Regions from separate parts of the Homo sapiens genome. Here all the other regions are linked to region 3. Evidence: fine-mapped expression QTL. A gene starts in region 3. Each other region holds a variant in brackets. All regions are shown on one strand. Distances are between the middles of the regions.

Region 1 (4,069 bases), 36 kb before region 3:
TGTCTTCATATCAGGTTGTAAAATCTGACTAATGGCTTCTTAATAAGGGGACACTGTTTTGGCTTGGGGGGATTTAGAAAAGTGTTTTATTGGCTAAAGTTTGGGGATTGTTCCTGTGGCAGCAAACCTTCTGATCCTTTCCCATGCTCAGAGACTAACCCCAGGGAATGTGGTCAAGAAGCCACTTAATGGTTCTCGATGGAGCTGAAGCCTCAAGGTTAAGTACCAAATCTCTATCAAGGGAGAGAGCTGAGTGGGCCTGTTCTTTTGTCTTCAAGCTTTCTGCTATCTTCTCTCCTTCTCCAACTAAAGTGTTCTAATCCCAAAGTGAAAGTGAAACTCTACTCTACTCCCCTTCTAATAGTATGTCACAGTCCCGTTACACCAGCTGGGAAGAACTGCGTTGGTATCTCTAGTGAGTAACATTGAATGTCAGAAAAGTGAGAACAGACTTTTCGGTGGGTGAAAAGGCACAGACCGTGACCATGGGAAGAAAAGTTCCTTTCTCTTTTTTCTGCCTTGCACCCTGCTTTGTGTGGAGTCTATTTTTGATATTGTACCTCGTCTATATGGCATGTTCACCTTAATACATGTGTTTGCACGTATGCTTTTTGGTTTACGGGGCTCGTGTAATCCCATTTAAGCCTGGCAAAATTTGAGGTAGATTATACCTTTGTTTTACAGATTGTGAAATGGAGCAGACAGACTTGATTATTAATTATGTTTCTCTTATAAATTGCTAGCGATGTGTCACCTTAGGCAGGTTTCTCTTGTTCTGTAAGCTTCACTGTGCTATCTGTAAAACAGAAACTCAGACAGCCTCCTTGGGTTGATGCAACAGTTACATGACAGAATGTTGGTAAAGTAGTTAATGCTGTTCCCGACACAGAATAAGCACTCAATCAATGACAGTTCTTATCGTTAGAGTATGATTGTTGCTATAGTTAGGATTATCTTGTGGGACTCTGAAACAGATATTCTACTTCCAAATCCAACATAATTTCCTCTGTCCCAGGTATGTAGTTTCATGTAGCAGTGTAAGTCTCTCTCTCTGAAGATGGACATCAGTCACAGAGCATTTCATATGCTCTCTTCACTCCTACTGAACTATTTCAATAAAGATATTAAGAATTATAAGACATAAACACAGTCCTGAAAAATCTCAGACAAGCAAAGAAATCAAATTGCATATAATATTAACACGGCACAAAGAAAGAACTCATGTGAATTTAAATAACCTTTAAAATCCAAGACGATTTCAGGTGGGAAGAATTAGGAGATTCGTGGCTTAGTACAAAAATGTCTGTTTTTCTTTTTCTCCCCCCAACTCTTTGGTCACTTAAACACACATGGAGTTGGTTTTGCTCAAAAGCACACTGTCATATGAGACTTCCCTTTTAACAGTTAAAAGGGAACATGTTCATTTTCTCCACGTGCTAAATGGGCTTAAAATACACACATGCGTGCACACACACACACACACACACAAACTAGAAAGTGGGTAGCTTGGGAATCATGTTTCAAGAGGGTCTGCCTGCACATCTGTGAAATAAGATGAGAGAATACGAATGGGCCTGAATCTCCCAAATTCTATGGCACGGTAATTCCCTGTCATTTATAGTCTTTCACTAGCTTCCTTGGTGAGCTAGCAGGAGGGGAGAGGAGGATTATTCATTAAAATCCTTTACTTTTGTTTCAGTCTTTTTTTTTTTTTTCTGTCTACAGAAGGTGTCCCCCTTGTGGTTATAGAAAAAGCTGGACTGGCAGTTTATCTCATCTTGTGAAATTTCACACATGGACAAAGACTTTTAGTATTCTGTCTATCCACCTTTTAGTAGCTCTTGCTTCTAAAAGGGTAAACTTTTACTCAGATACTCATTTCTATCTGAAAGTTAATGCTAAACTCAAAGCCAGATATTCAGTCAGCTGGCTTTAAACTTTTTAACCCCACTTATGATTATTTTTAAAATTCTCTTTCCCTGTGGCTGGTAGTATCGTTTTTCCATGAAGTGGTATCAGAGATTAAATGGTGTTATCTGTCCATGAACAATTTACTTACTGGAGCATGAAAAAGTGATTAAGCATGTGTCTGTTTCAATGCCATGACTGA[C/G]CATTAAGTTCTCTCAAGTATGCAACCCAGCTTGGCCTTTTCAGCAGCAGTGAGAAAACCAGTCTGAGTGAGCAGGTTCCGCAATGGGCTTCTTTCACTCCTGTTCCCCTCTCTTGGAGTCACAGTGAACACTAAAGTAGTGGGAGTAGACAGTTTTGGTTATTCTTAAGGAAGTATCTTGGTAGAGCTGCTGTTTCTCTGTTGAGTAGGAATTCACTATTTTTCCCCCGACTACTGTGTTAATATATCCAAATATCTTTTCCAAAACTATAGGATTAGTAAAGGTTTTATATGCCACTTTGATAAAATTGCTTTCACAAAAGCAGTTTTTAAGAAGACAGTTAAGAGCTCTGAGACAGTGGTTTCATAAAGGAAATCCAATTAGACTCTGTCTTAATTGTAGAATTTTTAAAAAAGAGAACAAGAGATGTGAAATATTCCTCTCAATCATCTGTCTTCTGTAACATACAATTCTAGAATTGTTAGGAAAAATGCACATTAGATACCAAAAGTGTTAAAATGTCAAATATTAAGGAGAAAAATCTAAGTAATAGTAAATCAGCAAAGTATGGATTTCTACATCTTACCGATTTTACCTCACATGCTACCTCCTCAGGAAGGCCTAACAGTATGATTTTCACCACTGCTGACTTGGTAATCAGGCACATTTCCTATACATACATATTATAGACTGAATAATTGAAAAATGAAGTGGACATTTAAACAATACCAACTTCTGCTCAAAAGGGATTCGATGCAACTTTATTAAAGGCAGTATTACATAAAAACATATTAAGCCCCGGTGTGTGATGTTCCCCGCCCTGTGCCCAAGTGTTCTCATTGTTCAGTTCCCACCTATGAGTGAGACCATGCAGTGTTTGATTTTCTGTCCTTGCAATAGTTTGCTCAGAGTGATGGTTTCCAGCTTCATCCATGTCTCTACAAAGGGGTGGGGGGAGGGGGGAGGGATAGCATTAGGAGATATACCTAATGTAAATGACGAGTTAACAGGTGCAGCACACCAACATGGCACATGTATGCATATGTAACAAACCTGCACATTGTGCACATGTACCCTAGAACTTAAAGTATAATAATAAAAAAAAAAAGAAATTAAAAAAAACATATTAAGATACTACTAATAGGAAACCTCATTAACATGGTGTGGTTAGACATATTTTCCCTTTTTCTACCCATTCTTTCTAACTTGTATTCATTGATATATTATCTGTGTGTTTTAAAAAATGTAACAATTTTAAAAATCAAATACAGAGTGTCATGTTTATAAAACACACTATGGAGTATGAAAATTATTTGTTAGAAAGAGGAATATATCTTATTGCCTAATGGCAGAATTGTGTTTCAGGGTACTTGATCTGATTAAGCATCCAGATCCAAGGGCATGCTGAAATAAGTTCTACTGTGTTTGATATTCATACTGAAGCAGAGGATATCAGTACTCTCTTTCACAGCATATTATTTCTTTTGTATCATAAGTGTATTTTTTCAGAAGACATTAATCATGTATTAGTCTGTTCTCATGCTGCTAATAAAGACATATCAGAGACTAGGTAATTTATAAAGGGAAGAGGTACAGCATAGCTGGGGAGACCTCAGGAAATTTACAATCATGGCAGAAGGCAAAAGGGAAGCAAGGCACCTTTTTCACAAGGCGGCAGGCAGGAGAACTGCTGAGCAAAGGGGGGAAAGCCCCTTATAAAACCATCAGTTCTCATGAGAACTCACTCACTATCACGAGAACAGCATGAAGGTAACTGCTCCCATGTTTCAATTAACTCCCACTGTGTCCTTCCCACAACATGCGGCCATTATGAGAACTACAATTCAAGATGACATTTGAGTGGGGACAAACCAAACCATATCACATCATTTTAATAAGTTTGTATAAGGGCAATTTATGTATCAATTTATTCTTTAAACAAATATTGAGTGTCCAAT
Region 2 (4,069 bases), 240 kb after region 3:
AGCAATATGTTTTGGTCTTGAACATGTGAGGCTTCACATGTGCATGTGTGTGCATATTCATACATGGAAAATGTATGGGGAGAAACAAATGTGGAGGCAGACGCAGATGCCAGATTCCTAGCCCTCATCAAATGGGACTTCTTCAGCCACACAGTCATCATTTCTACCACTGGCTACACACTTAGGTTTTCTGAGGATTTCTGAATATCTGTGATCATCTGTGGCTATTCATTTTCCATGACCCATTTAATTGAAAGGTGGTGTGGTTACTGTTTTTCTTTTAGGAAAGCAGAGATTATTGCCCTGAAGTCTCTGGAAATTAGCCACAGCTTGCAAATTTGGAACACCCAAAGCAAGCTTGATGAATTATCCCCAGTGTAATATCCCCAGCGCTTCTGCCAGAAGAAAGGCTTGGCAGTGTGAGAGAATTGATGCAGCTCTAGTTTCTGTTGTACCAGCTGCAAAGTGGACTTCGCCCCTTCTACCAAAACACAGAGTAAAATGATCACTTTTGAAAAAATATTTGAGATGACGGGGGAAAAAATGTCCTTGGGATTGTTTGTCAGATGCTGGGCTGGTTGGTGTTAAGCATAATTGTGAAGAAATGAAGGGACTTTGGTTAAGTACCCCAAGTTTCCTCAGTATCTTAGTACTTTGCTACTGCTGGTGCCCCTTTCGGTTATTCATTCATCCATGAGCAACTGTCACACATGACATTCACCTGCCGAAGATGCACCTTAAGCTCAAGATTTAGTTGCTGGTGATGGCATTGTCCCTTTTTGATAGAATATTGAAAGACAACAGCATTGATCAGCAGGTTCTGGGTGGTTAGTTGGTGGTTCTGGGATCCACTTACTCCATCTACTGGTCAAATATATCCAGTCTAGAAAAGGCTATTTCCCTTGGCTGTGGACAGTGGATACAGCTCTAAATAAACATCTTCAATGGTAGGTTTCATTCCTGGGTCACTCGGTGATCTTACCAGTGAATTATCTGTGGGTACTCATATCACTGGGAACAGGAATTTGAGGCCTGGAAATTTGACATGAAATGTGTGATCATTTCTGAAGTCATCTAACTCAAAGTAGAGACCTACAGAGAAGAGACAACTTAGTCATCTTTAAATTATGAAGACTTAAAGCTATGGCATAGTACCTTAAATTCTGGTCAGTATTGATCTGCAGCTAATGATGATGTCACCTCCACAAATCAGACATGGGTGCTTTACAGAGCTACTTACAGGCAACTTCTGGCCCTGACTTAGCCTTAGCTCTCTTGCCCAACCCCCCTACACACACATGCTTTGTTGCCCTAAATTTATGAATCTACACATAGGACTCCTCAACTAAGTCTACATGTGGCTGATAGCAGAAGGCAGCACTGTTGCACAAACAGGAACTCTGAGTTCAAGCAATACTCTGCCCAAGAATTTGAAATTGTTGATGCAGAAAGAGAAAAGAGCAAGCAAGAAGAAAGAAAAGAAAAGAAGAAGAGTCTTCACTTGTTAATGCTCCATCTTGCTTTCTTTGAGGTGCTCCTAATGCCTTCAGAAGGCAGCAGATTTATAGATCTGAAGAGAAACAACAGGATCCCTGATGCCTTCAAGATATTGCATCTCGGCCAGGCATGGTGGCTCACATCTGTAATCCCAGGAGTTTGGGAGGACCACACAGACACGTTGCAAGGTCAGGAGATACAGACCATCCTGGCCAACATGGCGAAGCCCCGTCTCTACTAAAAATACAAAAATTAGCTGGGTATGGTGGCATACACCTGTAGTCCCAGCTACATGGGAGGCTGAGGCAGGAGAATCGCTTGAACCCGGGAGGCAGAGGTTGCAGTGAGCCAAGATCGCACCACTGCATTCCAGCCTGTCGACAAAGCGAGACTTGTCTCAGGAAAAAAAAAAAAAAAAAAGA[T/AAAAACAT]ATTGCATCTCTTCTGTTTAGCACCTGGAAATAAGTAACAGATAAGTCGCCAGAATGAGGAACTATGACTTAAAAGTCTTCCCTTAGATTAACTGGGATTTATGTCTCTTTCTCTGTCTCTCTCTCTGGGCCATATTGAAATCCTTTTCCTCCTCTTCCTCTCTTCATTGCTTATTTAAATTACATAAAATCTTTATGGATTTTTCAAACCAAGACAAATACAGTGCATTGGAGAATATATTATGAACAATTGAAAATGTTTTATTTATGCTCTAAATATATTTTGTTCATCAAATTTGGATTAGGTATAGAATTATGATATTATGTGGGCATTAACTAGTGATGCTGTTCCCTATTTTATTCATGCATCATCTTTTATGTTTTTAGTGTGTGACAGACACATCACTTCACTGTTCACATCTTCAGAAAAATTATTTTGCTTTATTTCTAAAGTGATCCGGATTCTGTATCACTCCCATGAAATAAAAGAGGACCCTAGAACCTGGGTTTTTCATCTACCTCTTTGCTGAATCCAGCCCCTTAAGGATGACTGATTTTGTCCAAGTCCAGATTTCCAGAAGTTCTTTTTTGGCCCTGATAGTCCAAACCATTTGAAATACCTTCAGGATCCATTCATTTCACTTCCATAACTTCACAGGGTCTGCTGCTCTGCTTTTCTCATTGTCCCTGAGGGATTCTTTTCTGGCTTGTGTTTCTCTTCCCACCACCTAAACATGAAAATCTTCCAAGATGCCTTTTTCAACCACTTAGCATGCCTCCAAGTATCTTTCCTTTGCTAAATTTCCACATAATGACTATCACTTCAGCATTGATGACTTTCCCATCTATACCTTTAGCTCTAATCATTTTTGTAAACTTCAGGTCTACATTTTTAGCTGTCTATTGGAAAAGCCCAACATTTTGAAGTCCTACTGGCTTCTCAAAAAGACAAATAAAATGTCAAAAACTAAACTGAATTTAAAAGTTCCACTATCATTAGAAAACTTTATAGGAAGAACTAGTGTAGTTATGTTAAAGGTGCCAACGTACATGAGTTTCAGATCTCATGAGTATGCACAGTAAAATAATTAAAAGGAAGAGATGAGCAAGGTTGTTGTGAGATGACTGGAGAGATGCCCACTAGCTCCATGCCCCACAGTGGGTCCTCAGCCAATGGCAGCCATTCATTTTATCACTGAACTTGACATAACAATTATTTCTAGACTGGAAAGACAAAGACCTACTTCAGAATGGCCTGGCTTTTCCAAAGGTGATATACCACTAGAAAATGAGGGTCTTGATAAAATCTAGCAAGGACTATGTCCTGTGTAAGTTATCCCTCATCTTCTTTTATAATTGCATGTAGCCTTATGATGTTAATGATACCTTATATACATAACCATTCTGTATTCTGTACATGACAAAAAGGTAAAGGTCAACAGGCCTTCCAAGAAGTAAACTGAGTGGGAGTGAGAATAAAGAGAGAGCTGATGAGAAGCAATTCAGAAGAGTAGGGAATCTAAAGGTCAGAAACCATTTCCCAGTGTGGGTGCAGAAATGACAATAAGTGCTTCAATTACTCAGCATTCATTAGATAATACTGAATTTCTGGTGAAACAGGAAATTCATTTGCATTTCAGATTTACCCCTTCTCCACCTTTCATTTTACAGCAAGAGCCCTTTTAAGATGACTTAATGGGCCTTTCTCCCCCCTTAAAATTCCGAAGAAAGCATATACACTACATTCAGTAGTGACTAACACTTTCTTAATTATCCCTTCAATTTCTTGAAATCAAATGTGATTTGGTTGGGTCCTGTTTAAAAGTCATGCCAGTCTATTCAAAAGACAAGCACTGGATGATCCCCTTGAAACCTTTAGAAACTGAAGTCACTACTTGTAGAAGATTAAGACCTTGAGCCCAAATGCAAAGAGCTATGAGTTCAGTGAAAATCCAGCCAGCAGGTATCTTCTTCCTGCTGTGTTAATAAAGCTCTTGTTTCAGGCACTCATCTGCAGCTCTTCATACCCTTCTCTTATAGCATCAATTCCCAAGAGCATTAGTTGTCAGGCCCTCTTGCTACATGATATTTAAATAGGTACTGTATATGTTTTCCTTACTGGAGCCATAGCTGATTGGTAATTCATAATT
Region 3 (4,069 bases):
ATTTCCTATTGAGTGGAGTCTTTAGTTATAAGCTTTCCTTAGTGTTATTTAGAAGGCAGCCACTTTTCTCTCCAAGCCCCTTTCATTGAGTGTGAGCCAAATATCTGCTACTCACACTGCCTTAAATTCAGGGACTCTAAGTAATTTTTGGTAGAGGACATATTCTAAAAGAGACAGTGACCTTCTGTCTCTCCCCACAGGTCATTCTGTTTATATCCACTAGTAAGTGTAGTCTAACCAAGTTGGTGTGGAAAGTAGCTTCCAAGAAAATTTAACTTATAGCAAGGAAAGAAAAATGTTCTTAGGCAAGAACGATTCCTGCAAATTTTATAAGACGTGAAGCAGCTTAGAGTGTCCTCTACAAAGCCAGTATCCAAGACTGCTGGCAACAGACCCGACTAATTAAAGTGAGGTCCTCATTCAGACGGCCTCAGCATCACTTCAACACTTGCCTACCCCAGGCCTGCTCCAGGTCTATTGAAAAAGAATCTGCAATCCCCATGTGATTCATACTCACATTCATGTTTGAGGAGTATTGGCCTAGAGCAGTGGTTCTCAACCTTCATTGCACATAGGAATCAACCAGGCATCTTAAAAACAAATTAAGGCTGTCTGGGGCCCACCTGCAGAGAGTCAAAGTTAATCAGTTTGGGGGTGTGGCCTAAGCACTGGGATTTTTAAAAACGGCCCAGGAGATTCTGAGGTGCAAGGAGGGTTGAGAGCCACTGGCACAGGGGCAGAAGAGGCTATTTCTTCCATTCCGCCCCCTCTTTGTTGCGGAGGCAAACTGAGGTTCCTGGAGTCAGAATCTATCAGTCGTGGTGACTGCCCTGGTTGCACTGTAAGTATGGGGGGACGTCTCCACGAAAAAAAACTAACTTTCTGCCTTGTGCTCTGCAGGTCCCTCCTTCTCCCACCTTCCCCAAGTAGCTGCTCCTGACCCCCCCACACACCTTGGCAAACGACACCAGTGGCCGATAGCAACTGGTGTTTTAAAAATACTAATTTGGAGCCCCATTTGAGACCTACAACGGGAGAGTCTGCATCAGATTCGGCCTCAGATTCTACAGCATCTGACTACATTCCCAGGTGTGTGTGATGCGCAGCCAGGTTTGGAAGCTAGTGAACTCCACAGTAGGTCTAGCCTTTCACCACGTGAAGTCATTAAGGGTTTGTAAGAATGAATGAGCTGTCAAGAGAGGAAAGGCCTGGTGCAGTGTTCCTTTATTAATTATGAGGAAAGTGATTTATTGGCAATGATAATGCTTCTCTTGGAAAGGGCAAAGAATGGTTCGTCGATTGCTGCATTAGGTTTTTTCCCACTCAACCTTAATGCTCGGCTTTTACTCCTCACTGTAGTTTAAAACCAGCACGCCTTTCACACGAAACAGACTCTGGGTCTTTATTCCCAGGTGAAACGCATCTTTGAGGGAAATACCAACACAGAGACTCTGTCCCAGTTCTTGGCCGGGGGACACCCTCCCCCGAATATCTCTGTTTGCTTGTGTCAGCATCTAGTAGCCAACGTATAGTTGTGCATATCTGATACGTAGAAAAACACAGGGTGAGGATTAAAAAAAAAATCATTGATATATGCCCAGATCCTTTTGCTAAAAGAAAGCTTCCTTTAGCAGAAGGGCAGGAAGTGAGGGAAGAAAGATAGTTGGATTAACAAAGTCAGAGGTGAGAAACGGGTAGGCGAATTGGGGGTCAGGGTTCTGTCTGCGGAAGAGAAGAAGAGGGTTCAAAAGAAAAGTTGCAGCGCCTGTGTGCGCGTGTCATCGATGGGCTGGGTGCGAGAGACAGCGCTAGCGCGCGGCCACAACGCACTGCGGGGCCGAGAGCCGGCAGGAAATCGAAAAAGCTGCTCGCCGGCAGAGGCTGGGAGGCTGGAAGGGCTCCCCACCCGCTCGGTGCTCCAGAAACGCGCCGGCTTTGCCCCGACGCGATCGCCTGGGGAGCCCAAGGGGCGCGCAGGGGGCCCCGGGGCGCCCGGCAGCCGCGGGGCCGAGCGCGCGTGTGAGCGAGTGCGAGGCTGCGGGCGGCGGGCGGGCGAGTGTGCGCGGGAGGGAGGGGGAGCGCGCGCGCGCCCGGGCCCCGGCCCTCCCAGCCTCCCGGCCTCCGCGCCTGCCTCCCGCCCGCGCGCACCGCTGCCCGCTGCCGCGGCTCCCGCTCGCGCCGGCGCTGCACGGTAGTCAGCCCGCCGCCGCCGCCTGCTTTGTGCTTCCCACAGAAGATGGGAGCGACCTCTTCCTGATCGGGAGCTGTTTAAAAGGAGGGAGTGCGCCGTATTTTCTACTAGCGTGGAGGAACGGAGGAAGAATCCATTCACACTCCCCAAACCAGGTAGGATCTTATGATGGACAGGCAGAAGGCATTTAGTCAGAGACCAAGAACTATTTTCCATTTGCTGCTCATAAGGCTACACTTCCCTCTGCTTTGGCAAACGAGCGGCTTCTAAATTTGTGTGTGTGTGTGTGTGTGTGTGTGTGTGTGTGTGTGTGTGTGTGTGATGTGGTGTGTGCGCGCCTGCACATTTTTCTGGGTGTCCGCGCTTCCCAGAGTGAAATTGCTCGGGCTGGTGCGTCTGGGCGTGAGGGTGCCTGCCTGCCTGCCAGTGCAGGCTGCCGGAGGAAGAAAGGGCTGCTAAGGAGAGATGCTGCACCCTGCACCGCGCTGGGCTCTGAGGATTCAGGGCGCGAAGAGCTAAGTCCACCCCGAATGCAGAGCTGCTGGGGATCCAGGCGTCCCCACCCACTGGACTCTTCTCCGCGGACATCCCTCCTTCCGGTAATCCCTGGGGTCTTTCCCCAAGGCCACATTTCCGAGCCCCCTGTTTTCCAGCGGGCGTTGGGTGCTCATTCACCACGGACTGCGGAGAGGAGGGAGGTGTGGCGGGGCAGAGACAGACGAGGAAGAAATGTAGGGGGTAGCAGGGAGTGGGCTGCGGGGTCCACGTCTCTGGGCACTGTGCCGTGGTGTGCTTTGGGGATTCTGCACACACAGGCATCTTTCCCCAAGAGATTGGAAGGGAACTTTGCAGCTGCATTCTCTGCCTCTGGAGCTTTGCTGGCTCTTGGGGGAAATGGTCTGTGTTCTGAGATGTGAAGATATCCTTTTTGGCTCCTCCTTAATGAAGAAGAGGGCGGTCTTATAGCTGGACAGCCGGCCAAAGAAACCAAATCCGCCCAGGCGATGCTCTTGAAAATACAGTACGTGTGCATCCTTGATTCTTTAAATCCACCCCCTGCATCACCCCCGCCTCTTCTCTATCCCCCCCACCACCCCGTGGATTCTGTTGCTGTTTGATGAATGGCTTGGGCTGGCAATTTGTATTTCCCTCTCCAAAGTGGTAGTGGTTGAGTTGAGAACAGGGGTGATGAAATTTAACAAAGCATTTTTAGAAGAGAGCAATGTGCATGTTGTACGCAGTCATTGGAAAGTCATGCTTTGCGCTAGGTATCCTTTTGAAGCCCCCGAACCTGGCTCTCCTGAAGCCGCTCTCTCTCTCTCCTGCTAGTCAGCTACTAGTGGTTGTGAATATAACAATACAAACTTTGTCCTGCTGGAGGTGTAAAGACTAAAAAGAGAAAAAAAGGATATCAGTGGGAGGTGTAGTGGAAGAAGCTTTTTAAAAAATGACAGATGTGGTGAAGACAGTACAAGCGTCCTGATCATGGAGGAGCCTCTAGCTGAGTAGGTGGAGATTTCTGATCAGATCTGGTTAAAGGCATTGCTGGAGTATCTCCAGATATGAGCAGTTGAACATGCACAATCTGAGACTTGTGCGAAGATTTCCCAAGGGAAAGAGGGAGCCACCAGGAGAGAATTCTGAAAGTATACCTCTCTTTCCCATGCCCCCACCAGCGCGCGCGCGTGCACACACACACACACACACTCACATGCTTTCTCTTTCTCTCTCAAAGCTACTCCTGCAGCGAGTCAGAAAAAAAAAGGAAAATGAATCTAGATGTTTCATTCATTTCAAATAAGAAGACAAAGCCGGAAGAGGGATGATTGGTTTTAGGTTCCTCTTTCAAATCCTGTGTTACTTGGATTGAGCTCCCTG
Region 4 (4,069 bases), 60 kb before region 3:
TTTTTTTTTTAACAAATATGAGCTTTCCTGAAGTCCCACCCAGGGAACTCCTATTGACATCTGTTTGGACAATATTATGTTGCCTTGTCATCTCCAGGTGTGAGGGACAATAGGAAAAAAGGTTTTGCTTTTGAACTTCTAAAGTAGAAAAAGTAAGGGAAGAGAGGGTATTGAATGGCTCCTGGGTAAGCACCCATCTACCATGTCTAGCACTGAGCTGCATTAGGTTGGCTTTTTAAATATCATATCTTAATTTTCATTAGATACAAATTATTATTACATAGAATAATTGGAGGTTCCAAGGAGGAGGTTGGAATATCAGAATATTTTGAATTAAAAAACACAGTCTCATCCCTTCTTGTTCTGACCTAAATGCTTTGGCAGGAAAATTACTCAAATCTAGGAATACTCACATTTGCCATTAATACATCCGTTTTGTACTTCGTGTCTTTTTTTCACACATCTGTTTGTTGTTCTCTTTTCTCTCTTTTCCTTCAATTTTTAATACAAATTTTAAACACACACCGATAAATAGGATAATATAATGAACCCCTATGTACCTATCAACCACCTGCAACAATGAACATTTTACCAGCCTGGTTTTGACTATTCCCTCCTTTTATCCCTCCTGAATATTTTAACAAAACTCATTTCATTTCTGCCACACCAAAATGAGTTATGTCTGTATCTATGCCTCTAATTTATTTTTGCTTCTTCAAACAGAATAACTTACAAGGGTTTTAACATGATTTCGAAAAAAAATCAATGGAAAATTATTATTTTGAAATCCTCTCTTCTCTTTCTCTCTATATTTTGACCTCTTGTTGCACAAGATTAACAAGTTGGAAAAAATGAGAGAAATAAATGTTAAAAATGAGAAGTGAAGTTTCTAAAGAACTGGGGTGTTAAGCAGAGCTTCAGCAACCCCCTAAGGGAGTACTTCTCCACCACGCAGAGCAGAATTTATCCCCCATCTAACATTTAGGTCACAGATATCTGTCATTTAAACTATCCTTGACAATTAACAAATGTAAAAATTAGTATTCTATTCATATTTACATTCTTTAATTTTTTTAAAAAAATTACAAATCTTAAACTATGTTCTAGAAAGTAGTTTAATGGGAACTGCCACAATACGCTATATGAGAAGCTGTTTAAAATAACAGCTTCTTCTCTCTTAGAGATATTGATAACTTTTACCCTCTGCTATCTTTTCCTTGAAGACAAATAATCCAAAATGTTAACCACTATTCCCAGTTAAGTAAATATGTAAAGTACGTAGTTTTTCATTCACATACAGTGTTATTCATCTGTTCAGCCATTCGTTTATAAATTCATTCATTCATTAAACATTTCACAGGTCCCATATACATGCTGTCACTAGAATCTTTAAGGATGAAGACTCTAGTAAGGAACCATAATTGTCTCTCTGTTTTCATAAAGCTAGGCGAACCCACACCCTAAAAGCTTTATGTGGGAATCAGGTAAAAATTGGTTATGATCTAAATATTTGGAGAGTAGAAATGCCAATCTCAAAAGTGTTTTGGAAAAAAAAAAAAAAAAAAAAGCATAGTGACAGGATCATGTGGTGGGAAATGGGCCTGGCTGGAAGAATCGCTATATGTGTATTTTTATCATCCATGTGTTGGATGAAGCAGAGAGCTGCCAGATAGCTTCTTTTCGACAGCTTGGAGTTACTGTTGGGAACAGATCCATGTATGGAAGCGAAAGCCGAAAGGCACAGATAAGCTGAGATCCAGCTATGCAAACCATGTTTAGAGACACTTAAAGGACAAGCATCCCAGGTCCTTTCTTTCTGGTAAATTTAGAGAAGGCATCATACTGGGATCTTTTTTCACATCCAGCCCATGCGGACTGAGCAGCCAAAGCTTGACAGAGGTAGGTGCCGGGCTTTTGTGATGGAACTTCTATAAAGGATCATTTGCAAATATTTCCTCCAGAGCCCTTGATGTCCTTTAAGGGAAGGTGCCAGATAATATTTTGAAAAGAAAAACAAACAAACAAAAAAATAGGTTGGAGCTAGTGACTAAGAGGTATTTAACAGCTCTGCCTCCACAAGACAGGGAAGCTTTGCAACGGAAGGAAAGTGGCAACACAGATTTGCTGCCAAATAAAATCCCTCTGTCCTGGGTCACTTACCATTTGGAATTTTGTGGATACAAGTCTTCCTCGATATTGCCAGCACCTTTAGAAATGAGCCACAGCTTCCGCGGGGTTCTGAGACTCACTGTGTATTTTAGGCTAGGGTAGGTGGGATTTGTCTTTTTCCTTGCTTGTTCTCAAGCCAGCAAAAACTCGCATGTGTGACTAGTTCTTCCTTAGACATAGGAAGAGCTGCTTGTAAACGACATTATTTTTGGCAGCTGAAGTCATTTTTGCAATATTTCTCAGCAGTTCGGAGGTTGATTACATCCTGTTCAAAGATTCTTGGGTTGTTTTCACAAACACGGGGTCTTACGCAAGTTGAAGT[T/A]GCTGAAACCAGCTGTGAGCCCTGGGCTTTTCTCAGCACCTTTAAAATTTTGTCTTCTTTCTTTTTTTTCTACTGACTGAAAACTTTGGAACTTGAGAGGAAATGTTTCCAAAGATTATTATCGTTTTGTCATCAGTGATGTTTTGGGAATAGATTGTGGCAGAATATCAAAAATTCTGTGTCTCAGGAATGATGCAAGGTAAAAGTGTGAATATGAACAGAGTAACAACACCAGTATCTATACGACTGTCCTGTATTTTCTAGAATACAGATAAATCCAGCCAAATCATATCAATTGCATTTTGAAATGCGACTCCAGCTAATTACCAAATTGTAGTTATTAAATTAAAGCATATCTGTTAAAATTGTTAGCAAAGTCTGTGAACTCCTGCCAAACACAAAAGTCAAGAGAAAAAATTATAGGTCATATCTTTAAAATATGCATGTTTTGCCAAGATTGAATTAAAAAAATTTACACAAGATAATGGGATTTAAACTCAAGATTTATTTTACTGAGAATAATGTGTCCATAATTCAAATAAGATTTGAACCAATTGTTTTTACTTAGCTAAGTTTTCAATCTAGAGTATGAGTGGGAAAAAAGAAAAGAGAAATGGAGAAATATTGAATGTGACCTTCCTTCTCTGATGACAGACATGACATGGAAAATTATTAATAAGCAAGTGTAAGAAAATAAAAACAATTTGTAATACTGACCAAGGAGATGTTCTCTGGATAAATTAGATGTCTGGGAAAAGCAATTCATTTAACAGATACAGATGAAATGACTACTTATGTGGTGGTTTCTTTCAAGCTCTGAATGTCCCATTACACCAAAAAAGTGGCAGAGAAAGAGGAAATGTGTTTTTATTTCAATAGTGCACTATAATTATTAAAATAATTACAATACTAAGGGATTGTTTCCATCAAATTATTCTTTTATATGCCTATTTACATTGAGAGCACATTAAAATAACATATTTCTATATTTCTAAAATAGGCTATTTTACTTAAAAATACTAATATTCTATATTTGTGAGAGAGTTAGAAAGAGAGAGAGAGAATAAACTATGCCTTCTTTTTTTAAACTAACAGAGACAAGCTGTCATAACTTTTGCTAAAGTGGAACAGGCCTACGAAAAGATGGCTTTAAAATACTTAATTAAACACTATATACCAGCCGGCTTCTCAAAAGAAACAGCACAGCAGGAGTCTTTGCAATTTTCAATATGTAAAAGGTTGACATAAATGATGCCACTAGTGTTTGTGAACAGATGCAATGCATATATGATATCAGCTACTATCTTCTCGTTTGCCTACTGCCAAGTGCATTTCAAGTGTGCACTCCTCATGAGAAATGTCTGCTCCTGTTTTTTCTCTTGAAAACTAATCCAAGAAGCATAATATAAGTAATAGACAATGACTTACTGCTAATTTTGTATATACTATGTCAACATTTGTGGAAGAAAATTCATGACAGTCAAGCTACTTGCCCTTTTATTTCATGACTTCTTAAGCATTTAGTGATGACTATACATCTAGAAAATCTTAAAGAAATCATATTTTGAGAGGAAAATT
Region 5 (4,069 bases), 47 kb before region 3:
TGTCCATCCACACATTGAAGTACATGAAAGAAACATTTATCTTCCTTAGTATATTTCCCTATCCGACCAGGAGAATGTACTGGGTGATTTCTAGAAAGCTCCTTTCCTCTAAGTTACTGATTTAGTTACAGATACATTTCCCAAAGAAAGGTAGATTGCATCCATATTCATCAAAAGAAGCATACAGGTCAAAAGAGAGTGCTTGTGAATCAAAATATCCAGAAATAAGGGAGATAAATGAAACTTGACAACATTATTTAAAATGTCAGTCTTTTAAAGTGAGCAAATGTATGCAATTATTTCCTAACTATTTTGCTAATTTACTTGAAGAACTGAAAATAGCAGAAATGTTTTACAAAGAGTACATAAATACAACTTAATGAAGTTTCCAGGGTGTTAATGTCACTGGGGTGTTTGATATATAACTCAAACAATACAGAAAACAAATACAAAGTAAAGAAGGATAAAGAGATAGAGAAGGATAGAGAAAAGAAAGCAGTTTTAGATAAGGTGATCACAGGAAATAAAATTTGAGCAGAAAACTCAATGAAGTAAGGAAACAAGTCATGTGAATAACCGGGGAGATTTCCAGACAGAAAAATGCAGCAAAGGAAAGGCCTTGAAGTAGGAACAACTTGATATGTTTAGGGACAGTAAGCAGCCCCGTGAGAACAGGTAGGAGAGTTTTTCGAACATTACATCAGAGATATAGCCAGCAGCTAAATCACTAGGTCTTTGAGAGCTATAGATTTGGCTGAGGGTCCTAGAAGCCACTGGAGGATTATGAGCTGAGAAATAAATGATCTAGTTTACCTTTGTAAAAGTTCTTCCTGGCTGCAGTAGGCAGGATAGACACTAGAGAGGCAAAAGCCAAAAAAAAAAAAAAAAAAAAAAAAAAAAAGTCAGATGATAATACCTTACCTTATAGGTTCAGTGTCTATGTAATTGATTATCAGAACAATTATATTTTTCAGAGAGAAAGAGGGAGCTATTAATAATGACACTGGATCAACATCAATGAACTGGGAATGTCCCAAGAAAATGGAGACATATGTTTTCCCTAATTAAAAGCCTCTTTTCAAGAATAAATGAATACTTAGTTCAAATAATGGCTGCTAAAATTAATAGTTCCATTTTTTCCCCAAATATTAGATTTATAAGATATTGATGGACCACAGGCTAAAAATAACTTTATGAATGAACAAACTAGCAACTACGGGTTAAACTCAGATAAATTTACTCTAGGGGAATTTATTCTGGAGGAATTATTGGGGCTTTTAATAAGTTAATCTGTCTTGGGAATATTGAAGCCACGGTTATAGTAATGCAGTGTTTCTCAAGGCCATTTGTCCATGGATTTCATTGTTTTAAGAAACAATGAAACACAATATGAGTGGAACTCAATATGAGAAAGGTATGGTCCATAGATAGAGTGGAAAGGATGATGAACATGATTCAAAGATCTGACCCAGAAATTTTAATTAGATTGCTGGGTAGGTAACTCAGAAGTATGAGATACTCCAAATCCTGGGGGTTTTGTTGTTGTTGTTTGTTTGTTTGTTTGTTTTTTAAAAAGTTGGCCAATAAAGATGGTATATATTTAATGTGTACAAGATGATGAATTGTTACATGTGTACACAAACCACAGTCTAGAAACAACAACACACTAATGTAGCTGCTAGTAAAATCTCAAGGTTGTTCTGATCTCGAGATAGAAAGAAGCCTTTTCCCACTTTCTATAAAACATCAAATATTTGCTTTGTGCTTGTGGCTCCATGGACTTCAGTTTATACCCGAGAATATTTTAAATAAAGGCTTATTGCTTCACTGCCCTTATCCTCCAGCAAGGACTTGGGATGAGAGGCAAAGACTGTGTTCCAGAAAAACAGATTCTGACTCGGTTATTGACACAGAAGTCAGAGACATGTATGGAAAATTAAAGTATGAAGACTAGAAGATGAGTTTGGCAATGACAGGAGTGCCTGAGCTGGTCCGATAACCAACCAGAAGATTGTCCTAGGTCCTGGGATGAACACTGTTGCCTGCAGTTGGCTCCCCCCATAAACTCTGATGGGAAGTGTGTGGGCAGACAGCCTCTAGGACAGTTGGGAACTGTCACCAACTCACAGACCCTGGCTTACAAATGACCAATACTTTTTTAAAAGCTTCTTGAAGAATATCTCTCTAATTCTCTTGTTCCTTGGGGAACAACTCACCTTTTGCTCCTGGTAACAGTGGAAGTTGGCACAAAAGCAATTCCTATGTGCCAGACACTTTTCTCAGTGATTTACCTATATTAACTCACTAAATCCTAACAATAACCTTATGAGCTGGATCCTATTATCATCCTCATTTTTAGATGAGGAAAATGAGACAGAAAAATGCTAAAGAAATCTGTCCAAGGTTACACAGCTAATTACAGTAGAGCTAGAAAAGTCTGACTCTAAAGTCAATGTTATCCTCTACTCCACTGTGAGCAAACGCAGCACAGAGATGAACTGAAAAA[AG/G]TATCTTCTTTTTGTCCGATACCACTAGTTCCAGTCCTTACGATTATATATAACATGATTCTTCTTCCATGTGACACTCTTTGAAGTCTCCACAGATCAACAATTATTTGTGTTTCTCTCGAATTTTCTCTGTGGCTCCAGTTTCTTTAGTCTATTCTCTTATCATGTAACTGGATTCTGGCTTATATCAGTGCCTGAAGGTTTTTCTTTGAATGTGCTCTTATTTCTATTTTATTATTAATTTAGTTTGTATGTTGAGCGAGTTGACAGCCCCAACTCAGCCAAGAAATAGTTTTTAGGTAATTCTGAGAGCTCAGGTGCAGGATCTTCAGATCCACCCCTATTAAATTTCCTCTATTAAGATTTTTATGGATTCTAAATGTCATCTAGCCTGCTTTCAGTCTTCAACTTTGATATCCATTGAAAATGTAGTGAAAATGGATTTTATATCTTCATCCAATAGTTTGACAAAGTATTTGGACAAAACCAAGGACAGAGCCTTGCAGCACATCACCCACTCACTATTCATCTAGAGTTGGCAATTTTTGAGCACAGTTGTTAGGAAGGATTACATTAAATTGTATTGTTCAGTCCATATTTCTCTATTTGGCCTTAAGTAATTTTATGTAGTTATGTTAAAAATCCCAGTGAAGGTCAGAAACCAACAGCATTTATCTGTCTGATAGGTTTTAGATCCCTAAAGCTTATGAAGTTAGAATGACTTTAATTTGAACATTGAAATTATACTTGCAATCTTGTGGTTCCTATTTCAACCTCTAGAGTCCCTTAAAGACTACTGATTGGTTCAATGTTCTCTTTTAAAAAGCTTTAATACATTGGCATATAATTTACTTTTGCAAAATGTCTGAACAAATTTGGAGCAGCCAGGTACTGTTTTACCATCATGTTTATATTTGACTTTAGTTTCACTTTATTAATGTTTATTGTTCACCGTCCAACCAATATATGCAACTGTCTATTCAGCCCATTTCTGCGGAGTCTAAAGACTCAAATTTAACATGTTGTGATTTAAACTGATCATCTTTACTATCCACCTGACTGACCTTTCTGATTTATCTAACTCTTTGGTTAACTGTAAACTGAAAATCAGCTTAGATCCCCTTTTTTACTTAAGTGTCCACAACACACCAAATCAGTCCCAAAATCCAATAGTTCATACCTCCTGAATGTCTCTCATATCCATTACCATCTGCCTCTTATATTACATAAGTTATTGCAATAGCATGCTAAGAGATATCCTACCTCCACCCTGGCTGCTCCCTACTATTCCCCACGTTGTTGCCAAAGTGATTTGCTAAAACACAAGTTTTATCAAGCACACCCACAGGTAAAAATCTTTCAATAAATCCCTATAACTCTCAGGATAAAATTCAAATTCATTAACTTAATACCAAAGACCCTTGAAATTGTAGTTCTGCCAGTTATTATCAATTGCTAGTAGCCCTAAGTTTGTCTCTCACTGTCTCCCCATAAGCACCCTTTGTCCCAGTTATTCCAAACTACTTATGATTCACTGAACTAGTCAGAGTGGCTCAGATCTC
Region 6 (4,069 bases), 57 kb after region 3:
AGCTAGAAGACCAACCCAAAAAGTCAGGTCATTATCACTGGAATAATTGTCATTGATACAGCAACTACAGTTTCTCTTGCTGGTTTGCTTCTTTAACTTCTCTTGTTTTTTTTTTTTTTTTTTTTTTTTTTTTTAGTTATTAGAGATGATGGAGGTTAAAAGGATGCTGCTTAACAAAGATAAAAGCTCACTTAGACTAGTAATCTTTTTTTCTTTTTAAAGAAACATAGGATTACAGAAATATTTAATGAATTAATAAGGTACTTCTCAACACATTTTTTTCATTGCCAACTAGTTTTTCCAGGTTATGTACATAATTGAAAAAGTGTTGTGTTGCGTGTTATGCTTTGATGCAGTCTTGTTTTGTAATCCATTGCTTTCAAATTTCTATCATCATCTTCTAATTATCTTAAATTTGCACTGTGCTACTAGAATAGAATGATGGTATTATTACTATTATTACTGGCAGCAGAATTGAAACCTGGAGTATAAGTGGTTTGCAGACCATTCATAGATTCATGTAACCGTAGAGATTCATGGTTGAGTAGTTGAGCACCTGACTTCTATGGGAAAAGCAGCGCTCTTCAAGTTACTGCCTAATTAACAAACACACTTCATGGATTGAGGATTTAAAGGGGAAGAATGGTCATGCTTAGTACAATTGAATGCATATTTGCTACTAATTACATATACCTCACATTTTCTCTTAGAGACCAACTGCTTTAAAAATATTTTATTAAATGTTTTTGTTACCCTGACAGAGATACATTCCTTTAAGGGTGTTTTCAGCAAAACATTCAAGTTTTCAGGAAGTATTATCTTTCTTTCCTTTTACCCCTTTCCCATTTCCATGAAATTAAAAGGAAATGCATAGCCAAGTGTTTTTTCCCAGAAGAAAATAATAAGAAATATGCTGATTTTACAGAACAGTATGAACAGTTATAAGGGTCTATGTAAAAGGCAGCGTGTGTTCATTCTCCATGCATACTATTAGTAAAAATGAATGGACTTTCTCCTCATCTGTTTTTATTTAGAGCAGGACCTTCTTGCATTGAATTTCCTGTGTCAGCTGTGTTCTAATTCTGTAAAGCCTTTGGTTAAGGAACAGCTCTGACTCTATATCCCTATCTTTTCCTTTCCCATGTCTTAATTTTGAGTTCTTATCACTCTGATAATAAGCAGACATTTCTGAAAATCAGAAATCCTGCAGTTCCACTTTAGTTTTTCTTTCTCTTCCACTACCTTTCCTCTCTTAGAACAGTAAATATGTCAGATGGGAACCTAAAGTCAACCTCTGTGCTGTCTTGCTCTGACTTAAATGCTCTCATCCAAGTAGGTGGCATTTCTCATGAGGGGCCAGACAGAGTTATGGAACACCACAAGCAGGGTAGCCTTCGGATTTGACTTGAGAAATTAGGAAGAATCTGGTGGTCCTGACTAAGAGTGCCAGTGATAAAAATCCAGGTGAGCACAGACCATTGTCATAAGAGGGGCCTGCACACAGTTCTAGATAGGTATGTTTACAGGAATTCGTGGTCTGAATAGCAGGGCTAGATCAGATTTGAGATCTGATTTACCTAATACTAGAAAGAATGTAGTCAGTCAGGAGACTCAGGCCGGACTTTTTATTTGATAAAGAAATGAAACTGTTGATGTTGGTTTCTTCAGTAGGATTTCTCTACTTCTTTTAGACTTCTCAAAAGGTTTTTGTTTCTTTAGTTGTTGCTTTTGTTGTTGTTCCCCTACCCTCAGAAGTAAGTAGATTAAGGTAAACTTTTGTCTTAAAGAGCACTGTCTAGTTAGTCCCTGTTTTCTGGACATCAGTGGTCTGTTAAATCTATAATCAGTAGGTGAATTTGTTTACACAGACATGAGCATTTGTGCACATCTTTTGTGGGACTTTGCAGAAAAGAAGAGAGATGTTACCTCCTCAGCTCCAGAATCTTTTACTTCAGTGTCTCATTTCCTCTCTGGGATTGGGGTAGAGTTCTTGGCACAGAAGATGCTAACAACTGACTTTCTGGGAGTCTTTGCACAAATGACAACTTCTGTGGCCTTCAACTTCCCCAAGCTAGCATGATGGGTAGATTAATATGTTCCTTTTTGGCAGGAATGGGAACTAATTTTTTTTTAAAGAAGGAGGAAAAAACACGTTGTGCTAAATCAGTGATTACTATGGCAACAGGCACTCTATACATGTTAGAAAAAAAGAAGAAAAATGCAATCACAGTTCTCTAAAGAGGAAGATAGCAGAAATAGGTTCACAAACTTT[A/T]TTTTCAAAAATCAATAAATATGTAGTAGGCATCCACTATATGCTCTGTATAATCTTATCGAAATGTCTAACAGAAACTTGATGATAAAACCAAATCTGCCATTTGCTTGCTACCGCTCTGTTTCAGAAATTCACTCACACACCACACACACACGCACACACACACACTAACAGAAAAACCACAAAGAAATAGTATATACCATATTTTAAATAAAATAGTTAAATTTCAGTGCCCTGATGAATCCACGTTAGAAAAAGCAAATATCTTACTAGCTTATTGGGCAGAAATACCCAAGTTAGAACAAATTACTCTCCCTAGAATGGCTGTATTCACCCCCCACCCCACAAAATGCAGGTGTTTGCGTAACATGTTGCAACCGTGTTGGACACATAGTTCTTAATGTTAGTGCAGGGTTTCTCAACTTAAGCTCACTTAGACTAGTAACCTTTTTTTAAGCTCCGTTGACATTTTAGCCCAGGTCATTCTTCTTTGTGGGGGGCTGTCCTGTGCACTACTGTAGGATGTTTAGCAGCATTCCTGAGCCCTACACAAAATGTCAGTAGCATCCCCCAGACTGCCACAAGCAAAACTGTCTTCAGTCATTGACACATGTCACCTAAGGGGCAAGTCACCACTGGTTTAGAGCTACTGGTTTCAAGTAACCCAGCTGTGTTCTCAGGGCTTGTGGTGGGGTATTTGAAATAACCCATTGCCATGAAAAGGGTAATAGGCATAAAAATAAAAGCTGAACTTTATAATATTTTGGTTGATTGGGTGATTTAGGTTATGACTATTAGTGATTTTGCCAGTTTGGCTCTTTTATGACAGATCCTGTTATATAAATAAAATCACTAATTTTCCAACTGTAGTATCTAATTGTTACAAGCTGAATTTTGGCAAATCAAATGACACAAGGATAATATTCCAATTCTTTATTTTTTCACATTACACAGTTATCCCCCTAATTAGTTTTGCTGGGAGCACCCTCATATGGGTTTATATGGAATTGGAAACAATGTTGGTAAATTAGAGAGTACATTCAAAATTATGACTACACAGTGGAAATAAGAATGTAATAATCTTTTACAGCAAAGGCTGTACAGATTGTTTTAAAGGATTAAAGAAACAGTGAACTAAGGGATGACAGAAAATCATTTGGAACATAGCAATTCCACCCTTGAACCTGTAAATATCACATTATAAATTTTATATGTGAGATTTTCATTGTATTATACTACCAGATAAAGCAACCATAAACATAGATTGCTAAGTTTCTTAATGCACATGCTTTGAGAAATGACCTCAAAGCACAACTGGATAGCTGTTGGGATTTTTTTCCTAAGTAATACAGAGCTGTGAGGTTTGAAGTGTGTTCTAATCATTGTACTTTCGGAATTTTCAGAAAAAAATAGAGGTGATGCTAACTTGTATGTTTTGGATTTTGTAACTTTGTTCTTGACATGTTATAACTCTGTAAAACGGAGCTATAAAATAGATTAGACAGTTTACATATTTTTTAAAATCTGAATGAGTTCATATAGTTCAGCTAAAGATGAAACACTGATAAAATTCAGTCAGTATCACTATTGATTTGACAACATTTCTCCTGCTCCTCTTTTGTCTGCTGACTCCTGCCAGCAAAATAAAGTAGATTTACTAGTACACTATAATCTTTAGAGTTCTTACAAGGCACAAACAGTAAGTATTTAACTCTATGCAGGGTAAGAAGAAGTGAAGTGAGTAAAAAGTAGTGTAATCTGTCCCACTTTAACGTAAACATTAATGTAAATATTAAT
Region 7 (4,069 bases), 300 kb after region 3:
CCTTTAGAAGAAGGAAATTTCAAAATGAGGAAAATTGCTCCCTACTCTCACAGAGAGACTGGCCGCGTCACATTACCTGCGGCCATGGTGTCATCATTTCATGATGGAACTAACTCCTGCCTAGAGCTTTTGAAGAATTGTTAATAACTGAGATATGAAACCTCTCAAGTCTTCTTGTCATACAATATATTGTGCTTTATGTTTCTAAATGACCGCTTGGAAATAAGGCACAATTGCTTAGAAATTCGCAGGCTGCTGGGTAAATCGACCTTATTTACAATTTTGAGAAACAACATATCAGAAAGTCAAACCCATGTTTTAAAAGCACCAAATTATACGCAATTACATGAAGGGCAGTTTCAAAAGTTGAGTATTTGTCTTTATGATTAAATTTAACTGTCTAAAGAATGTCAGTATTCTTAGGCTGTTACACAGGCAATAAAATTTGTAAAGCAGCATTTATTGAAGTCAGACTTTCATTGGATTTTAAAATTTCATGGCTAAATAGTTGAGAGTCAGTACAATTTGCCTTATTACAAATATTAAATTGCTTTTAAAGGGCTCTACTGAGAGGTTTCTTTGCTATGCAATTTTCTGTGCAAAATTAACTCAATATATCTCGCTAAACAAAAATAATAATTTTGTAAATAGGGATTTGCTTTTCTTTCTCAGTAACTGTATTCAAACTGGTTTCAAAGTCAACCCTGTGGCAATCTTCTTGTCCCTCTGCTTTTTCTGAATTTCATAGCTCAGTACTTGGGCCTCCTGTGACCATAATGATTCTGCCAACCCAGTTCTTTTAATTCCATATTTGAAGAGTTAAAGGATTTATGAGAATCCAGAGATTAGGAAGCGATTAAGCAGTTACATCCTGGCAGTTCTCCTTCTGTTTCTTCCTGGGTTGAACACTAGGAACAGTGGGTTCTGCAGTTCAATGGCTGTCAAAACTTGCAAGGCAAGTCCAGTACCACGAGGTGCTGTTAAAGTGTGCCAGCATATGCCCTTCTCCATGAAGCCAGCATTCCCTGTCCAGTTTGAGTTTTTCCCAAATCTCTCTCCTTCTACCAGGGCAGAATGGTGAGTCGACTCTAAAAAATCGTGTGCCAGCTGAGGTATCAAGGGAAACAAGTGTGTCAGAGAAGAGGGCAAACATTAGCTGGATAAAGGGAACCAGGATGCCAGTGCCAGTTCCACAACCACCATATTGTTCTTCACAACAGCTTTGGGCAGAGGTGAGGCAAAGGAGAGAATGATTGCAAGGCTGGCTTTGGAGACAGGTGTGGGTTTGTGTCCCTGCCTTCCAAAACCTCCCTGGATGACTCCAGGAAGATTACTACACCTCAAGATCTCAGTTCGCTCACACCTCAGAATCTCAGTTTGCTCATATGTAAAGTAGAGATAACTGCTTTATTCATAGAGCTGCCATAAGAATTAATTTAAACCGTATGCATTTTCACAAAGGCCATCTGTACATGGAAACGCCAAAGTTGGTTGTTTGGGAGGCAATTCTATTATAGAACCTATAATAAAATATGATCAAATTTTGTGCAAATGCAGTTAATTCAATTTAATTAATAAAATAGCTATGGGACTAAAAACACACTGGTTAACTTCTTTCTTTCATGGTATCATGCATACCATTTTATAAATAAGAACACTGAGGTTTGGAAAAACAATGTAACTACTTGCTCAAGAAGCAAAACTGTTAAGGGGCAGTACCAGGCAACAAATCAGCCCAACAGTCTCTCCAGCATGAAGGGTGCACTTGCTTGCTGTGCATGAGGCCTGAGTGAACACACATGTAGAACACACGTATACACAGGTACGCAGAGACATGCATGCATTGTGCGAACACAGACACACACATACAAATCAGGTATGCACGTACACAGAGGCATACACACATACAAAGACAAAGATACACAAAACATGCATACATAGACATGCACATTATATAGTAGATATTTGTTTGGATATTGGAGCCGCAGCTTGAAATAGAAATGTTTTTTTTTTTTCCTTAATATTTGTTAGGTCTCC[T/A]TATAGTCCAGTGCACAAGTTCCTTGGGGAGGATGCCAGTCAATTCCCTGAAGAACAAAGGGAAGAATTTGTTTTCCTAGGTGCACCCATAGGCTTATCCTGCCTAGTAATTTGTGACATTCTTTGAAGTCAACACACTCCTCCCTCTTTCTTTTACCTAATGTTAAATATCCAGCATTAAAGAGTTTCCTGAAATTGTTTTACTTTTGACATATCCATTTGCATATCAGACATAGTATGTATTGGCATCTTTATAACGAAAGAATACTCAAAAGTGACTCAAAAAAAAAAAAACTCCAGCAGTTTTGGTTCTGTCTCTTACCAACTGTATAATCTTGGCAAAGAATTTAACACTTCTGATTTTTGGTTTCATCATCAGGAAAAGGAGAGAGTTGGACTAGGCTAGCTCTAAGATACCATCCAATACTGAAACATGGGAGCTCTGTCGATGGCCATTATAGTCCTACAGTAGCCCTGATGGGGATTTTGCTTCATGGCCCGTTGGATTTTGACAATGGAAAAGCATATCTTGCCCATCCTCTGGCTTGCCTAAACTAAATATTCAGCACAATAGCAGCATACACTTCACTTCTGTTCTTCTAGAAGGAAGGGGATTAGAGGAGAGTTGAAGTTTAGCCTCAAAGAAAGCCAAGTGAGATGATGATTCAGAAGTGCCTATCTTCCTGTTACATAATTGGATCTCGGGAATGCCAGTGGAATCTTCTACAGTACAAGGGAAGACATTCTACATGAGGCCCAGCTGGTGCATGCTGCTGACCTGTCCACACTCACTACATTTCACAGCAAATTAAAGTGACCCAGTTCCAGCTAAATAAATAAGTAGAGGGCATGTCACCTTAGCCCACCAGTCCAATATGGATACTAGTTCAGTTTAAAGGACGCTTCTGTCATCAGTCCATCCATGCATGCTTTGTGGATTAATATCCTCAATTATTTAATATAAAATACTGTCAACTCAGTGGTCCCCTGGACAATAATTCACTTGACTATCAGCCTGAAGGCTAATCTACTCTAAAAGTCTTAATAAAAATGGTACCTCAAATGAGTTTCAAGGGATTGCCGTGAAATCTGGTCTAAGCAGGAGACTTTTCAGCATCTCGTCTGTTATTGAACATCATTACTATGGGGAAATTGTCATTACTTAATCCTTGTGGTAGCCTTAGGTCATCTGAAAATCCAATTTAAGCAGTTAAAAATTCTGCTAGGGCCAGGCACGGTGGCTCATGCCTGTAATCCCAGCACTTTGGGAGGCCGAGGCAGGTGGATCACGAGGTCAGGAGATGGAGACCATCCTGGCTAACACGGTGAAACCACCTCTCTACTTAAAATACAAAAAATTAGCCAGGCGTGGTGGCGGGTGCCTGTAGTCCCAGCTACTAGGAAGGCTGAGGCAGGAGAATGGCGTGAACCCGGGAGGCAGAGCTTGCAGTGAGCAGAGATCTTACCACTGCACTCCAGCCTGGGTGACAGAGCGAGACTCCATCTCAAAAAATAATAATAATAATAATAATTCTGCTGTGTCAGATTTGACATAGCCTCAGTGTGTCTAGAAGACAACCAAAAAAAGGAGGAGGGTGTTACCAATGGGATTTCTCATTTTGCCCTTTTTCTTATGTGATATCAACATTCATAATTTTCCTTTGTCTAAAATCATATGTTGACTGAGGTTCATGAAGAAGGATGCTAGTCTCATGAGCAAAAGTAGGTAGAACTGTCCTAAGAAAGTTTCTCACTTGAGCCAAGGAGTTCAAAACCAGCCTATGCAACATAGTGAAACCCCATCTCTACAAAAAAATAAAAAATTAGCCGGGTGTGATAGTGCATGCCTGTAGTCTCAGCTACTCAGGAGGCTGAGGCAGTAGGATCACCTGAGCCCAGGAGTTCAAGGCTGCAGTGAGCTGTGATTGCACCACTAGACTGCCTAGGCTACAGAGTAAGACCCTAACTCCAAAAACAAAAAAGAAAACTTTGTCAAAGACATATGAGTGTGAAATTGTGGCCCACTTTGGCT

Direction of the effects. Alleles are on the strand shown, and positions count from the first base shown. SD is a standard deviation of normalised expression in the study named. Not every link is listed here.
As copies of T replace AAAAACAT in region 2, the expression in iPS cells of the gene that starts at base 2,160 in region 3 goes down (moderate effect, 0.54 SD a copy in HipSci).

What was found. PIP is the estimated chance that this variant, and not a neighbour inherited with it, causes the effect.
Region 1: its variant is the best candidate, but not a certain one, in a credible set for the expression of SLC8A1 in blood mononuclear cells (TOPMed, PIP 0.88).
Region 2: its variant is the best candidate, but not a certain one, in a credible set for the expression of SLC8A1 in iPS cells (HipSci, PIP 0.70).
Region 4: its variant is the best candidate, but not a certain one, in a credible set for the expression of SLC8A1 in whole blood (TOPMed, PIP 0.89).
Region 5: its variant is the best candidate, but not a certain one, in a credible set for the expression of SLC8A1 in whole blood (TOPMed, PIP 0.65).
Region 6: its variant is the best candidate, but not a certain one, in a credible set for the expression of SLC8A1 in blood mononuclear cells (TOPMed, PIP 0.67).
Region 7: its variant is the best candidate, but not a certain one, in a credible set for the expression of SLC8A1 in monocytes (Fairfax 2014, PIP 0.87).

Annotation. Positions count from the first base shown.
Region 1 is chr2:40,485,872-40,489,940 of GRCh38, reverse strand. It overlaps a transcript of SLC8A1 not described here. Among named protein-coding and RNA genes, the nearest start is that of SLC8A1, 36 kb to the right of the region's middle. The variant C/G (reference allele first, on the strand shown) is at 2,111.
Region 2 is chr2:40,210,132-40,214,200 of GRCh38, reverse strand. All of the region lies in intron 2 of SLC8A1 (solute carrier family 8 member A1), which reads left to right. All of the region lies in intron 3 of SLC8A1-AS1 (SLC8A1 antisense RNA 1), which reads right to left. Among named protein-coding and RNA genes, the nearest start is that of SLC8A1, 240 kb to the left of the region's middle. RefSeq lists an enhancer at 3,161-3,755. The variant T/AAAAACAT (reference allele first, on the strand shown) is at 1,920.
Region 3 is chr2:40,450,181-40,454,249 of GRCh38, reverse strand. SLC8A1 (solute carrier family 8 member A1) reads left to right here and starts at 2,160. Exons shown (of 11, transcript NM_021097.5): 1 at 2,160-2,346.
Region 4 is chr2:40,510,179-40,514,247 of GRCh38, reverse strand. It overlaps LOC101929667 (a long non-coding RNA gene), which reads right to left and starts at 2,326. Exons shown (of 5, transcript XR_007086295.1): 1 at 2,161-2,326. It also overlaps a transcript of SLC8A1 not described here. The variant T/A (reference allele first, on the strand shown) is at 2,492.
Region 5 is chr2:40,497,628-40,501,696 of GRCh38, reverse strand. It overlaps a transcript of SLC8A1 not described here. Among named protein-coding and RNA genes, the nearest start is that of SLC8A1, 48 kb to the right of the region's middle. The variant AG/G (reference allele first, on the strand shown) is at 2,507.
Region 6 is chr2:40,392,814-40,396,882 of GRCh38, reverse strand. The region is part of intron 2 of SLC8A1 (solute carrier family 8 member A1); the gene reads left to right. It also overlaps the pseudogene LOC124905995. Among named protein-coding and RNA genes, the nearest start is that of SLC8A1, 57 kb to the left of the region's middle. The variant A/T (reference allele first, on the strand shown) is at 2,273.
Region 7 is chr2:40,154,623-40,158,691 of GRCh38, reverse strand. All of the region lies in intron 9 of SLC8A1 (solute carrier family 8 member A1), which reads left to right. The region is part of intron 3 of SLC8A1-AS1 (SLC8A1 antisense RNA 1); the gene reads right to left. Among named protein-coding and RNA genes, the nearest start is that of SLC8A1-AS1, 240 kb to the right of the region's middle. The variant T/A (reference allele first, on the strand shown) is at 2,038.